4 linked regions of the Homo sapiens genome follow. The protein of the gene in region 4 purifies or fractionates together with the protein of the main gene of each other region. This does not show direct contact. Each region holds a gene or a part of one and is shown on either strand. Other genes may lie near its edges.

Region 1 (3,500 bases), on a different chromosome or scaffold from region 4:
TAGCCTTGGACACTAATTGACAAGTCTGTGGGTCACTGAGTTATTCATCCACAAGGCCATTTCAAACCTCTCTTCAAACTCATATTCACCCTTTCTGCAGACAATCTCATTTATTCTCTACCAAAAGGTGAAGGCATAGCAAAATGGCCTCTTTTATTTTGAAGCTCTACCATTTACATTGTTCCTTCTAGACTACCTTCAAACATGCACAAGTAAAAAAAGAACCTTTATTTGCCCTTGTTGCTTCTGTCAGCTGCTATCTTAAGAGTCAGCTTTGGCTCATTTCTCCCCTTCAATCCCTTAGAACCAGTAAAGTCCCAATAATGCTAACCTTGAAAAATTTTTTTGATTCCCATCATCACATTCATAGTGCAGGTTCTTTTTCTTTCTTTCTTACTTTTGAGGCAGAGTCTCACTCTGTCGCCCAGGCTGGAGTGCAGTGGTGTGATTTCTGCTTACTGCAACCTCCGCCTCCTAGGTTGAAGTGATTCTCCTGCCTCAGCCTCCCAAGTAGCTGGGATTACAGATGCCTGCCACCATGCCCAGCTAATTTTTGTATTTTTAGCAGAGATGGGGTTTCATCATGTTGGCCAGGCTAGTCTCAAACTCCTGACCTCAGGGGATCTGTCTGCCTTGGCCTCCCAAAGTGCTCGGATTATAGGCATGAGCCACCACGCTCATAGTGCAGATTCTTAAATAAATAAGATTCTTGTAACTAGTTACATCTATCTGATGCACCTTATCCACAAACGTCAGATTAGTAGTACAATGTTGAACCTTCTGTTAATCAAAGATTTGCAGTAATGGAAACTAGTCAACAAGGTATTAAAAACCTGATCATTGGTTCTGCTTTTCCTAACTGATTTTGTTTCCCACTCCATTTCCCCATAACATTTTTTTTTTGTCTGTTTTTTTTGAGACAAAGTCTCGCTCTGTTGCCCAGGTTGGAGTGCACCGACATGATCATAGCTCACTGCAGCTGTGACCTCCCAGGCTCAGGTAATCCTCTAACCTCAGCCTCCTGAGAAGTTGGGACTACAGGTACACGACACCATGCCAGTTAATTTTTGTATTTTCGGTAGAGATTTTGTTTATGTTGCCCAGGCTGAACCATACTTTATACTTCTACTTCTATTTTATAGTTTGTGGTATTCTTCTGACCTTCATTTTAACTCTGTCCTTCCTTTCAGGCTGGTTCAAACTACACTGAGCCTTCCCTGGTCACTAAAACTTGTGGCCCTTCCTATCCTACACCTCATTTACTATGGGCTCTCCATCTTTTGGTCCTTAAGGTTCTTCTCAGGTTCTTCTCAGCATGTCCTTTGTGGTGCAACAGCATTAGGCATTTCTCCAAAAGAACCTAGGCATAGTGCTATATATAGTAGGTACTAATACTTGTTGAATTGAATTGAATTTCTGGGCCTGTTTTCTTATCTGTAAAATAAAAGGTATAGACTAGACAGAACAAAGATCTCTTTTGGTTCTAACTGTTATTACCCTATGAAAATACTCAAGGAATAATCAAAACAATTATTTTTTTCTAATATGATTTTGCAAAAGCTATGCTTGTGATAGATACCACAAATCAAACACTAAGTATGGTAAAAACCATAAACATCTAATCCAACTTAAATCAACAACAGCACCTTACTACATAAACAAAATGCAGACTGGGCATGGTGGCTCATGCCTATAATCCTTTGGGAGGCCAATGCGGACGGATCACTTGAGGTAAGGAGTTTGAGACCAGCCTGGCCAACACAGCGAAACCCTGTCTCTAGTAAAAATACAAAAATCAGCCGGGCATGGTGGCACACACCTGTAATCCCACCCGCACTCCAGCCTGGGTGACAGAGAGAGACTCCATCTCAAAAACAAAAACAAAAACAGGCTGGGCGTGGTGGTTCACACCTATAATCCCAGCACTTTGAGAAGCCTACATGGGCAGATCATGAGGTCAAGAATTCAAGACCAGCCTGACCAACATGGTGAAACCCTGTCTCTACCAAAAATACAAAAATTAGCCAGGTGTGGTGTTGTGCGCCTATAATCCCAGTTACTCAGGAGGCTGAGGCAGGAGAATCACTTGAACCCGGGAGGCGGAGGTTGTAGTGAGCCAAGATCGTGCCACTGCACTCCAGCCTGGGCAACAGAGCAAGACTCTGTCTCAAAACAAAAAACCAAAAAACCGAACACATAAAACAACAACAACAAAACAGTGGGAAACATAAAGAGAAATCAGATACTCCCTGCACTTGGTGACTTATATATTAGGTGAAGAAACAGGTCAAAGCAGAATTAAATGCTACATATAGGTAGGAGTGATGTGTTCCTCTATTACCTGTTTTTCCAAAGCAGCCTTTCCTACTTCTTTTGTGCATGATGTGAGTGTTTCATTCAAGCACTGTAAGCTAAAGAAAAAAAAAGAAGAAATGAAACTTTATCCTAAGCTCAAGTGAAGACTTCAATAGCAGTTCCATAGGTATACCTTGCCAGTTCAAGCCGATCACAAAGTTTTTCCACTTCTTCCATCATTTTAACCCGCTCTGCCTCATTATCAGAAAAATGATTCCAGGTCTAAAAGCACAAACACAAAAATAGTATCTACACTCAAAAATACATCCATCAACATAATTACAAAGCTGTAATCCCAGCTACTCGGGAGGCTGAGGCAGGAGAATCGCTTGAACCTGGAGGCGGAAATTGCAGCAAACTGAGATCACGCCACTGCACTCCAGCCTGGACAACAGAGCAAGACTCCATCTCAAAAAAACAGACAATGACAACTGAACAGGTATAATTTTATCTCAGTGTAAATGTTTTTAACTTTTTCTTTTCTTTGAGACGGAGTCTCACTGTCGCCCAGGCTGGAGTCCAGTGGCACGAAATCGGCTCACTGCAACCTCCACCTCCCGGGTTCAAGCTATTCTTCTGCCTCAGTCTCCTGAGTAGCTGGAATTACAGGCGCCTGCCACCACACCTGGCTAATTTTTTCTATATTTAGTAGAGACGGGGTTTCACCATTTTGGCCAGGCTGGTCTTGAACTCCTGACCTTGTGATCCACCCGCCTCAGCCTCCCAAAGTGCTGGTTACAGGTGTGAGCCACCGCGCCCGGCTGTTTTTAACTTTTTCTAAATTTCAGGTGTACATATTTCAGTTTTCAACCCTGATAGTTTTTTTCTAAACATAATCATCTTACCATTATCAAACCAAAAAACAAGTTAATATTCTAAAACTGTCCCAGCACTTTGGGAGGCCGAGGCAGGCGGATCGTGAGGTCAGGAGATCGAGACCATCCTGGCTAACACAGTGAAACCCCGTCTCTACTAAAAATCCAAAAAATTAGCCGGGCGTGGTCCCAGCTACTCGGGAGGCTGAGGCAGGAGCATGGCGTGAACCCAGGAGGCGGAGCTTGCAGTGAGCGGAGATTGCGCCACTGTACTCCAGCCTGGGCGACAGAGCAAGACTCTGTCACAAAATATATATATATACACATATA
Region 2 (2,585 bases), on a different chromosome or scaffold from region 4:
CTAAAAGGACTAGCCTGGTGTCTGTGTGATTGAATGGGCATGCCACAGCAGGCTGGTGGTCATAGGGCCAGGCCCAAATCCTATGCCGTGTTAGGGAAGGGGACAGGACTAAAATGGCCCACAGGGGTGGCAGGGAGGGTGCAGTGAGTACCAGGGGTTCAACACAGGGGAAGGCTCTGGGGCTGATGATCTCTTTGCAGTTGGGTTCTATTATCTGATTTGGTGTGGGGAAGAGATGAAGCCTGGCCTTTCTCAGAAGGAAACAGTCTGAAATTTCACGAGTCAGAAGATTCTGCGCTCAGTGGGCAGGCCAGAACTAGCTCTCGTAACCTAGTGCTCATGTCCAAGAAGCAGGCCAGCCCCAGCTTCTCCTTCCTCCCATCCCTGCCCGCCACCCGCCCCACCTCTAGAACCTTTGGATGCTCTCCCTTGGCCCTGTCCGGCTTCCTGGCATATGACTCAGTCATTTCCCATGGAAAAGCTCTCAGGACACTTAAAGCTCTGCCAGAGAAAACGTTTAATTCCCTCATGACCAAGACAAAAAAGAACTGGCTTCAACAACTAGCTGGGTCTGTGCTGGCCTCCAAGACCTTGAATAGCCCAGATATGGAGAGGTTAGGTAATGTGGCCATAGTGGGCGTGGGATGAGACATCATCAGTTCACGCCAACACCCGTGGCTTTCCTCAGCAGCCCAGGTTTCTCCATTTCCCCCTCTGGGCTCTGAATTTGTCCTCCTGTCCCAGACTCATAGCCTCCCCTAAAGGGCAGAAGGTACCAGTGAGGCTGAGGCTGAAGGAACACCCAGAGACTCCAAGATCGGAGGGGAGGGCCCACTCCCTGGAGCCTACTGACCCCCTCCAGCTGGACTGACAGCCTGCCAGGGACAAAGCAGGACCCTGACCACAGGACCCTCGGGAATAGCCCCTCTACTCTTGCTCCCCAGGGAACTCCCCTGGAAGAGGGACCCTCAGCATTTCTGGGAGTCCAGGGGCCTGCTGCCCACAATCCCCAGGTAGCCTCAGATAAGGAAAAAGATAACAAGTTGGTACTGAAAATAAAGCAAGCGAAGAGGGATTTAAAAAATCTCAACTTCCTTTTCATCCTGACAGGATTTCCCCAAGCGTGCTGCAGAAAAAGCAGCATTTAAATAGAGTCCTGAGGTAACAGTTTTCCGAGTGCCCAGGCACTCGAGGCGGGGCCGGGCTGGCCCATTGTTGACAGTGTCCCACAGAGCCAGCCTGCCACTAGTCCTCTAGCACTGAGCTCTTGGCCTCCACATACTCCAGGGCCTTGGCCTTGACTGCCTGCACATCCTTCTCAGTGCCATGCTGCTTCTCGTAGTCCAGGTAGCGCTTGAAGAAGAACTTCATTCTCTTGGGGGCCAAGCTCAGATGAATGACCCGCTCAAAGATGTCCCTGTTGAGGAAAAGCAGAGTGGCATTTGCCTGTCAGTCCCAGGTCACGTGCTTCCTGCCTAGCACTCACCCACTTGCTCTCAGCCCTGGAACCAGGACCCTCTCCCATCCAGGACTCCCACTTCTACCATTATCTTTATTAATCCATGATGAACTCCCATGATGCCTTGGGGAGAGGCACTACCACCCTCATCTTCCAGATGAGCAGATGGACACCCAGAGATGGTAAGGGACTTCCCTGCCTAAAGCCACACAGTGATCAAGACAAAGCTACTGGGATGGGGGACACAACAGTGAGAAACATACATAGTGAAGGGCTTGGGTGAGGCACCTGTTCTTTTTGGACCTCAGTCTACTCATCTCTAAACCCTCCCTGTCTTGTGGAGACGCTGGGGTCAAAAGCAAGAGAATGCCTGTGAAAGTAGTCTACAATGAGAGTCAGGAACAGTGTTAATTATGAGAGAAACTCGAGTCTCTTGACAAGGCTACCTCCTACCAATGGTTTCAGACACAGACCAGATGCTGGCCTTTGAGGCAGAAAGAGGAGTTGAAGTGAATGTCACTGGGCCTGGGGCATCACATCTAGCTGGTTTTCTAGATCAAGTAAGAGAACTGGGATGCTGAGAGCTGCTGTGGGACCAGTGCCTACCACGCCCTCTCCTGAGGAACTCGGCCTTGGCCAGCTGCCCCACTCACCGGACGTCCTTCTGGCTGCCGTGCTTGATGGTCATGTCGATATAGACCGACCAGACATCTGTGCGCTTTGGGTAGGTGCTCAGCGTGTTCTCAAAAATGGCTTTGGCCCGCTCTGCATCCCCCAGCTGAAACTCAAGCTGGGCAAACTTGGCAATGACATCCACATCTGCAGGGAGAGGACTGCTCAGAGACCCAACAAGCAGACAGCCCCCTCACCACAACACAGTGTTCCGCAGGGTCAGCGTGCACCTGACTCCCTGCTCTTGGGTCCCAAGACTCAGGTTGTGACAAGAGGGACAAAGACCCAAAAGGGGTGGGTTTGGGGCCAAATACACAGATGGGCACTGCAGACACACCACTCTCTGGGCACAGAAGAGGTGGGGGATCCCAGGGGCAACAGAACTAGTACTAACTGCGTTTTGTTCCTCCATCTTTTGGAGCCTGACATTTGAAATTTAACATGCACTGTTATG
Region 3 (3,500 bases), on a different chromosome or scaffold from region 4:
AAAATACCACCACGTGGACAAGCTAGAAAAAGAAAACAATAGTACTGAAACAATTAGTATTTAAAAACATACAACATGACATAATGTTTACAGCAACCTCAAAATCAGTAAAAGATCTTTCAATAGTCTTAAGACAAAAAAGTACAGAGGGTTTTGCTTCTAAATGGTTATCTCTCATTGGGAAATATCTCTTTATTCATGACATCTATATCCATATACCAAAACTTTGCTTTCCTCTACTTAAATGCTTGTTTCATGATTTAACATCCCAACATGGTATTATACAAAATTCTACATGAATTTTCTACAGCCTATGTGTATGAAAAAAGGTAAGAAGCACAAACAAGCTGGATGTTTCTGCACTGAGCCTTTTACGGATGGCTTCCCTTGTTTCTATAAAGAAAGTTTAACACTCAATTCAATTTGAAGAAAGATGGTCAACATAATGTGATACATACAGATGAACACAGTGCAGCAACTAAGTATAAAATGCCATACTTTTCCTTTACAAAAAGTGAGCTCTCACGGGAGGGAGAGGAGGCTCTAGAAAAAAATATGATCAGGATTAAACAGCATCTACAGGTGCTCTGCCAGAGAAAATAAACTGCGGTTCAACCCATGCTCCATCTGTAACTACAGAGAAGAAACAATGAATAAATAAGGCCAAATAGCAAAGCAGATACTGCCAGATAGACTTAGGAAAGAAAAATGTCCCCTAAGGGGACCTGGCCAGTAAGAAAAGAAAGCACTCACAATGGCAGTTTCTGGTAAAGGTGTATAAACTCCCGATCCCAGAAGAAGAAAAAAAAAATCAGGTTTCATTACACTGCTCTGGCACATAAATAACCAGTTTAAAGAGATAATAAGTGAGTTGTGTTCACCTCTAAGTTAGAGCTCAGAAATTAACATTTTTCCACAGAGAAAGGGGACACTTATTTATCTAGTATTCACTAAACATAAACATAACCCCTGAATATATACTTTATTGAATCCTCTCAACAATTCTATGATACACAGAAACTCAGAAATGATAAATTCATTTGAAGTTAAGTCATTAATAAGGGGCTGGCTGTATAGTGCAAGCATTTAGAAGCATAAACTCTGGAGCCAGACTGCCCAAATTTTAATCCCAAACAGAGCTGGGTAAATTACCCTCTTTGCCACAGTTTCTTATTTGTAAAGTGAGTCTCACTTAGGGTTGTTGTGAAAGTTAAAAGATTTACCTCAGAGAGACAGTGGTGGACAGCAAGGACTCTAGAGGCAGACTTCCTGTGTTAGAATCCCTGGCACAGTTACTTGCCAGGTTAGTAAACTTGGGCAAGTTATTTAATATCTATGCCTGTTTTCAAAACTGCAAAAAGGGTAATAATACATATCCCACTGAGAGAATCAAAGGAGCTAGTATATTTATCACTTGTAGTTGGCTTGTCTCTCTTCTCTCCTTCTCCCCAAAACACTGAGAACCTTGTCTGGGCCAGTAAATGTTAACTATTAAGTGACAGATGATATTTGAACCTAGGTATATTTGACTCCAAGCAAATTCCTTCTACAGTTTTTAATAAACTACTTCCCAGAGAAACCTCATTAAGTTATTGGGCTGGTTGGTGCGCAATAACCTTTCTAAATATCACACTGCAGATCTGAGATACCAATAGCACCTCTTGAAAACAGAATGATTTGCAATTTGGAGAAGTTCAAAAAGGCTTCTTCCTGAGTTTAGGACAGAGCCCTACCTAAAGATTAACCTGAATTACAAGGTAGAAAAAAAGGAGGTTACAGTCAACCCCAAACCACAGTTAAAATAAAACTAGGAGAATAATGGTCCTCATTGGATTAATAAGGTCCCAAAAGTTAACATGATAGTAAAGGAACTGCGTGTTTATGTGTGTTTCAGAAGACAACTTGGGACATGAATACAGAGGAGTCTCGAAAGAAAAGGATGACTTCCTGAGGCTCCAAGAGCCTTAACACTCAGTAAATTCCAGGCTTCACTTAAAACTTCCCTCCCATCCGTACGTAATCCCATTCCTTTTACGGGCCAGCCTCCACTGCTTAAATAAGATGTTTGGAAAAAGGGAAGCAGCGGAAGGGCAGGTCAACACTGAATAGTGCTCCAAGATAATGGAGTCTACCCTCTTGGGACATTCGGGTAGGCAGAAGCTGTCACGGTTTTCCCTCATTAGTTTTCTCCCAAATGCACTAATGTATTCTTGTTGTCCATCCATGCAATATATATTATGCAACTGGTTAATCCAGCTTCAAGTAATCAACATTTGATTTTGGCTATTGGTAGCTGTTCTACACTGGCAACCAATTTCTCTTGCTCCATCTTTCACGACACCTGGATCCTGTCTCTATAGGTCCCTATTACTATTTCCTTGCTGATACAAGTTCTTAGCTGGGTATCTTTTATTTGCTTGCCCTAAGTCCAAGATTATTTCCTTCTTTCCATATTCAAACTTTCTATTGCTCAATACTGACTCCATTTGTCACTAAATTTTAGTTGTAAGAAAGCAAATGGTATATGCCATTTCAGACTAATGTGTTAATTTCTAACAGAACCATAATCCTGTTTGACATATTCATTTCGGAAAGTATTAATACAAATGAATTCATAAAGTTTTGGGGCATTTGAAGAGGCAAATAAAAAAAATGGAGGCAATATTAAAAAATGGAGGCAATATTAAAAAATGGGCAGGAACTAAGCACTGTATAGACTGTGCAGATCAGTCTGATGTCCCCTAGTTTTTATTTATAATACACTATCAAAATAGGCAATAACAATAGCTGCCATTTACTGAATATATACACCATATGGCAGGCACTTTACATGTATTATCTCATTTAACTCACGGGAACTAGCTGCATTTTGCAGATGAGAATTGCATTCCAGCTAGATTTTGTAACTTGTCTAAAACTATAGAGCTAGTAATTTGAAACATGGGACTCAAACCCAGGTCTCTGACTCCAAAGCTAGTGTTCCTTTCATTAATTTATGCTATCTGATGTCTCTTTTACTTCCTTAGAGTTCCCAAAACCTGCATGTTGATTTTTCCACAGTGAAGGTCCATAGAGGTGGCAGCAGAACAGGTACAGAAGAGGAAAGAGGTAGGTAGGACAACCATTATTTTCAAGTCTATTGAAACGTGCTGCTTAAAAATACATGTTTTAGTTAACTATTAATTTTGAGCAATTTAGAATTTCAGGTCATACAGCTATAAAACCTCCCAAAGTTAACCAGATTCTGAAATAAGTATCAGTCTTTATATGTCAAAATAGACTATAAAAAAGTAGTATTTCCCCCTCCAAAATTATAACAGTCACAGAGATCAATTATCTTCTTGGAATAGTCACTGAGACGTGCTAGGCTTTTAGGGAAGTTTAAAAAAAAAGTTGCCTATATAATGAAGCAGACTATATCATTTCCTAACCAGGCTGAATAACAGAATAGTCTCTATAAATCTAATTTCACAAATGCTGTAACTTAACACTACAATTCA
Region 4 (4,123 bases):
AAATAAAAGTTCATTAAACATTCACTAAGATAATAAAACATATTCCAGCAGATACTCATCTCTAAAACAAATCATTTAAACACAACCAGGAGATAAGCCAAATATAGTTATTTCTTCATCAAATAAGCAAACTCCAGTTATTTCCCTGTAGATAAGCTAAATAGTTATTTTAGCACCAGAAACATGGGTCTACTTAAGTGAAATTTCTGTTTTATTTATGATTTGGGGAAGGAAATTCGAGAAATTACAATTTGATATTCCCAAATTTCAATGTGGCTATACAAACCAAAAGTTCCAGAAGCAATCACAACAAAACCTGAGGCATATGTTGTTGATAGCAAAACTACTTAAGTCCTAACCCCATGCACTCCTTTACTCCCCAGCTAAAATTTGCACCAAGAATTTTGTAAGGACTTGCCCCAAAACCAAACTAGGCCCTCACTGACTGCTTTACTTACTTCTTTACGTTTTGTTTCCGGACATTCCGACTGCAGAGTGAGGGTTGCACCTTCAATATTTCTTGGCATGGGTGTGGAACCAGGGTTTATTGTCAAATGAATCTGATCTGGTGAGATAATGTGCTGCACATAACCCTGGGACATTGCTTCATGATCTATCAGGTGAAAGCCCTCTTCACCCCCTACTAGAAAAGGCAAGTGTTCTCCGCACTGTCCGTCGTCATCTTCATCCTCCAAAGTGCCAGGGTCCTGCTCAATAAGAACAGTGGTCCTATCATAAACAGTTCCAGATGAGGAAGGCACCAGTCCGTTTTTATCCACAAACCTGAGCATTTTATCATCGGGGGTCAGCTCATCTTCCTCTGCCTCAAAGTAGATGATGTTGTTGTCTGGACTGTGTTCCCCCATGGTTCAGTTGTGCTCAGCCCAGTTGTGAGAAATGAAAACGTAATGACTTGTCTGCAACAGAACAAAGCCAGAGTTAGAGTCATACCACAAGACCGACGGACCTCCTCAGCAACCACAAGGCTCATTTTCCCTCTCACTTAAAGAGCAAGCCAAAGCAAATGAAAAACCATCCTTGGGAATAATTTTTTTATTTTAACTTTAAAACCATCAAGTCATTTTTAAAGAAAAGCAATGCCGACTGGGCGTGGTGGCTCACACCTGTAATCCCAACACTTTGGGAGGCTAAGATGGGAGGATCGCTTGAGGCCAGGAGTTTGAGATCAGCCTGGTCAACATAGTGAGACCCCCATCTCTAATAAAAAAAAAAAAAAAAGAAAAAGAAAGAAAAGCAATGCTTTTCAAAAACTGAATAAGTTCATAAGACCTTCTGAATACGCCTGTCAAACAATTTGAAACTTGGTCAAAATATTTAAAGGGGACAAAAGAGCAAACAGAACAGCAGCTGCTGAAAGGCTGAGTTGCTACAAATCTTAAGGGAAACTCCATCCATTCAAATATCCTCCAAATCAGACCACGAGGCAGTAAATGGTTTCATGCAGTTTATGGTAGAAGGAGCAAGGCTTTGGAGGCAGAGTCATCTACCTACAAATCCTGTCTTTGCCTTTTACTACATGGGTAACTTTTCTGTGCCTCATTTTTCTTACGTGCAAGGTGGGACCAGTAATTCCTGTTCTCTCAAAGTTTTTATAAGAAATAAAAGAGGCAACATATGTAAAGCACAATGTTTGGTAAATAGTAGAGGAACAAGTATGAATTCCTTCCCCCCTACCTAGAACAGATGTTTCAACCTTCTGGGTGGAAGGGCTATTCCTCAATCAGGCACAAACAACGAAGATCACTGTATCTATTTATGTCCTAAAACAATATGGTGTCAACAAGAAGTTATGGTTCTGTGGTGGGCTCTCGTCCCTGAATCAATTGAGTCTTATTATTTTTGTTTCTACAGCTCCTAGCATAGTACACTGATACTATGATAAGAGTTCAGGAAATGTCAGCTAAATGACTGAAAGACATGGCTACCTACTCTCTCGTGAAGATATACTATCTTGGGAAGATACATTCTCTTGAGAAAAATACCACATTTGAAGCTTTCATGTTCTGGAATAGTGATTCTTCCTTCATCTGCAAACACAGGCTCTACAAATGTGGGTTTGGCAGGCAGAATAGAGAATTTTAAAATAATCAGCACATCCCTTTTAGTTTTCAGTCTGGCTTTGCGCTTTATCTTTCTCTTCTGCTCTGGGTTAGAAAGTGAGCCTTTACTTAGTGGGATGGCTAGACAGTTACCAGAGACAGGCCAAAGGATTGGATCCGGGAGGTACCGGCCCGACCCCTAGCTCTGGCTTACGCAACCCCACAGATGTACATTTCGCTGCATCTGAGCAGAGAGAGAAGAGCACCGAGGGCCCCAGTGGGCTGCCCCGGCACCCTCGGCGGCAACGCGGAGACCAACTGTCCGAAACAAACAAGACCAGGAGGTTTGAGGGTAGCCAACGAGGAGTGCGAACAGAGCCCCCTTGAGAGGAGGCTGGGAAAAGGAACCTGTCTGGGATAGCCCCCAGCACAGGGCTACACAGAAAAATCCGAAGACAAGCTGGGGGTCTCCAAGCAAGGAGGAGAGGGGCAGGGTCCGGGTCTCCATGGAAACAGGGAAGGGGGGCTGGATACCCATCCCCATGGAAACGGAGAAGGGGTGGGGTCCCTATGGTGACCAAACTGAGGTCTCTATTGGGAAATGCTTCAGGAGGGAGCCTAAGTCCCGCGCCTCCCGGTAAGTCCCAAGCCCAGGCCGAGTCTAGTTTCGCCTTTTACCTCCGCGGCTCCCGGCAACGGCGGCAGCAGCAGCTTCTCCCCTCCCCAGCGGCACCATGATTGCCCCCACCTTCCCCTAACGTCACTTCCGCTTCCTCTTTCCGGAGGAAGGTGGGGACAGAGGATCCGCCCCTCCCTGGCGCCTCTGGTTGGCTCAGGTTGTCAGGGGGCTGAGCTGCAGCCTCCAATTGGCGAGCGGGGCACCGAGGGGAAGGCGCCCAGGAGGTGGGTTCATCCGCGTGGGGAAGCGCCCGGGGTGGCCACGCGGGGCCCGGAGGGTGTCGCCCTCGCGGCACCGGAGTCAAGGAGAAGGGAACGAATCCCCAAGGAAGAATCCGAAATGTCCTCAGCCAGGTTTGCGCTGACCGCCCTCGCCCTGGCAGCCACAGCCGCAGCGGGAAGGACCACAGTTGGCAGTCAGAACCCTGGCTCCAACCCGCCAGGGGAGCCTGGACGGCCGCGACGTTCCCGGGTTTCTCCTGCCGGGACCCCGGCCTTCCCTTCAGCACCCATCAAAGTTAACACAGGCAGGAGGCCCAGAAAGGAAGACAAGACCCCAAAGGCAGAACTAAGAGTATTCTAAGCCCAGCTGGAGAGGACGCCGCCGCCTCTTCCCCTTCTCACGCGCTTGCCTAGGACCCCCAGCTCCCTTCTCACGCGCTTGCCCAGGCTGGCGGTCCCAACTTTCTTCCCCTGCAAGAGGACGCGGCTACGGCGGGACTCATGCCCGGGCCAGTTAGCGCCACCTACCGGCCACTCCCTTCCTTTCACCGTTCACATTGTCCTGCTGGCCCGCGTCTTAAACCCATTTCACAGTGCCCAGAAGTAGTGGGCATTCGTACCCAGGAAGCGATTCTGCCTTCGTTATGCCCCTGTCCTTTCCAAATGCCTGGAGGATCTAGCTGTTAGATCCTCCCAGCTGCCACTGCCTGTTTTAACCATAAGCTGCTTCTCTCGAATATTCAGAGTGGGACAACTCCAAAGACCAGACCAGGGGTCAAGGGGTTCAGGTCAGTGCCATAACCATTTCTTGCTGGAAGTATGTGAATAGTGACTGGTACCCACCAGACTGCCAGGAATATGTCTCTTTGGCCCCAAGGCTTGAGCCACAAAATCCAGCTGCAGCGAACTGCCATCTCTTAAGACATAAAAACATACACAACCGCCACTGTTAAAAATACATTTATCATTAAAATATATTACACATGGAGACAGGATGCATCATATACAGTTTGGAAGACTTGCTGGCCCAGAAAATCCCACTTGTTTCACCGAACACTCATTTTTTCAGTGATTTTACATTTTATTTTTAGAGACGGGGTCTCCCTCTCTCACCCGGGCTGGCGTACAGTGATGTGGTCATAGGTCACTGCAGCCTCAAACTC

The links. The genes of interacting proteins can lie anywhere in the genome.
Region 1: the proteins of MTF1 (region 4) and DNAJC2 purify together in Homo sapiens (affinity purification with mass spectrometry, with the first as the bait; one large-scale study listed by BioGRID). This does not show direct contact.
Region 2: the proteins of MTF1 (region 4) and PDCD11 purify together in Homo sapiens (affinity purification with mass spectrometry, with the first as the bait; one large-scale study listed by BioGRID). This does not show direct contact.
Region 3: the proteins of MTF1 (region 4) and ZC3H15 purify together in Homo sapiens (affinity purification with mass spectrometry, with the first as the bait; one large-scale study listed by BioGRID). This does not show direct contact.

What each region holds. Positions count from the first base shown.
Region 1 is NC_000007.14:103,317,268-103,320,767, forward strand, and holds part of DNAJC2 (dnaJ homolog subfamily C member 2), read right to left. Parts: intron 2,578-3,500; coding exon 2,489-2,577; intron 2,412-2,488; coding exon 2,342-2,411; intron 1-2,341. UniProt on the Homo sapiens protein: Acts both as a chaperone in the cytosol and as a chromatin regulator in the nucleus.
Region 2 is NC_000010.11:103,444,210-103,446,794, reverse strand, and holds the end of PDCD11 (protein RRP5 homolog), read right to left. Parts: intron 2,279-2,585; coding exon 2,113-2,278; intron 1,418-2,112; coding exon 1,246-1,417; 3' UTR 501-1,245; downstream 1-500. UniProt on the Homo sapiens protein: Essential for the generation of mature 18S rRNA, specifically necessary for cleavages at sites A0, 1 and 2 of the 47S precursor. Directly interacts with U3 snoRNA. Involved in the biogenesis of rRNA.
Region 3 is NC_000002.12:186,489,260-186,492,759, reverse strand, and holds part of ZC3H15 (zinc finger CCCH domain-containing protein 15), read right to left. Parts: intron 1-3,500. UniProt on the Homo sapiens protein: Protects DRG1 from proteolytic degradation. Stimulates DRG1 GTPase activity likely by increasing the affinity for the potassium ions.
Region 4 is NC_000001.11:37,856,793-37,860,915, forward strand, and holds the start of MTF1 (metal regulatory transcription factor 1), read right to left. Parts: upstream 2,801-4,123; 5' UTR 2,739-2,800; exon of another isoform or gene 1,696-2,738; intron 918-1,695; 5' UTR 867-917; coding exon 459-866; intron 1-458. UniProt on the Homo sapiens protein: Zinc-dependent transcriptional regulator of cellular adaption to conditions of exposure to heavy metals. Binds to metal responsive elements (MRE) in promoters and activates the transcription of metallothionein genes like metallothionein-2/MT2A.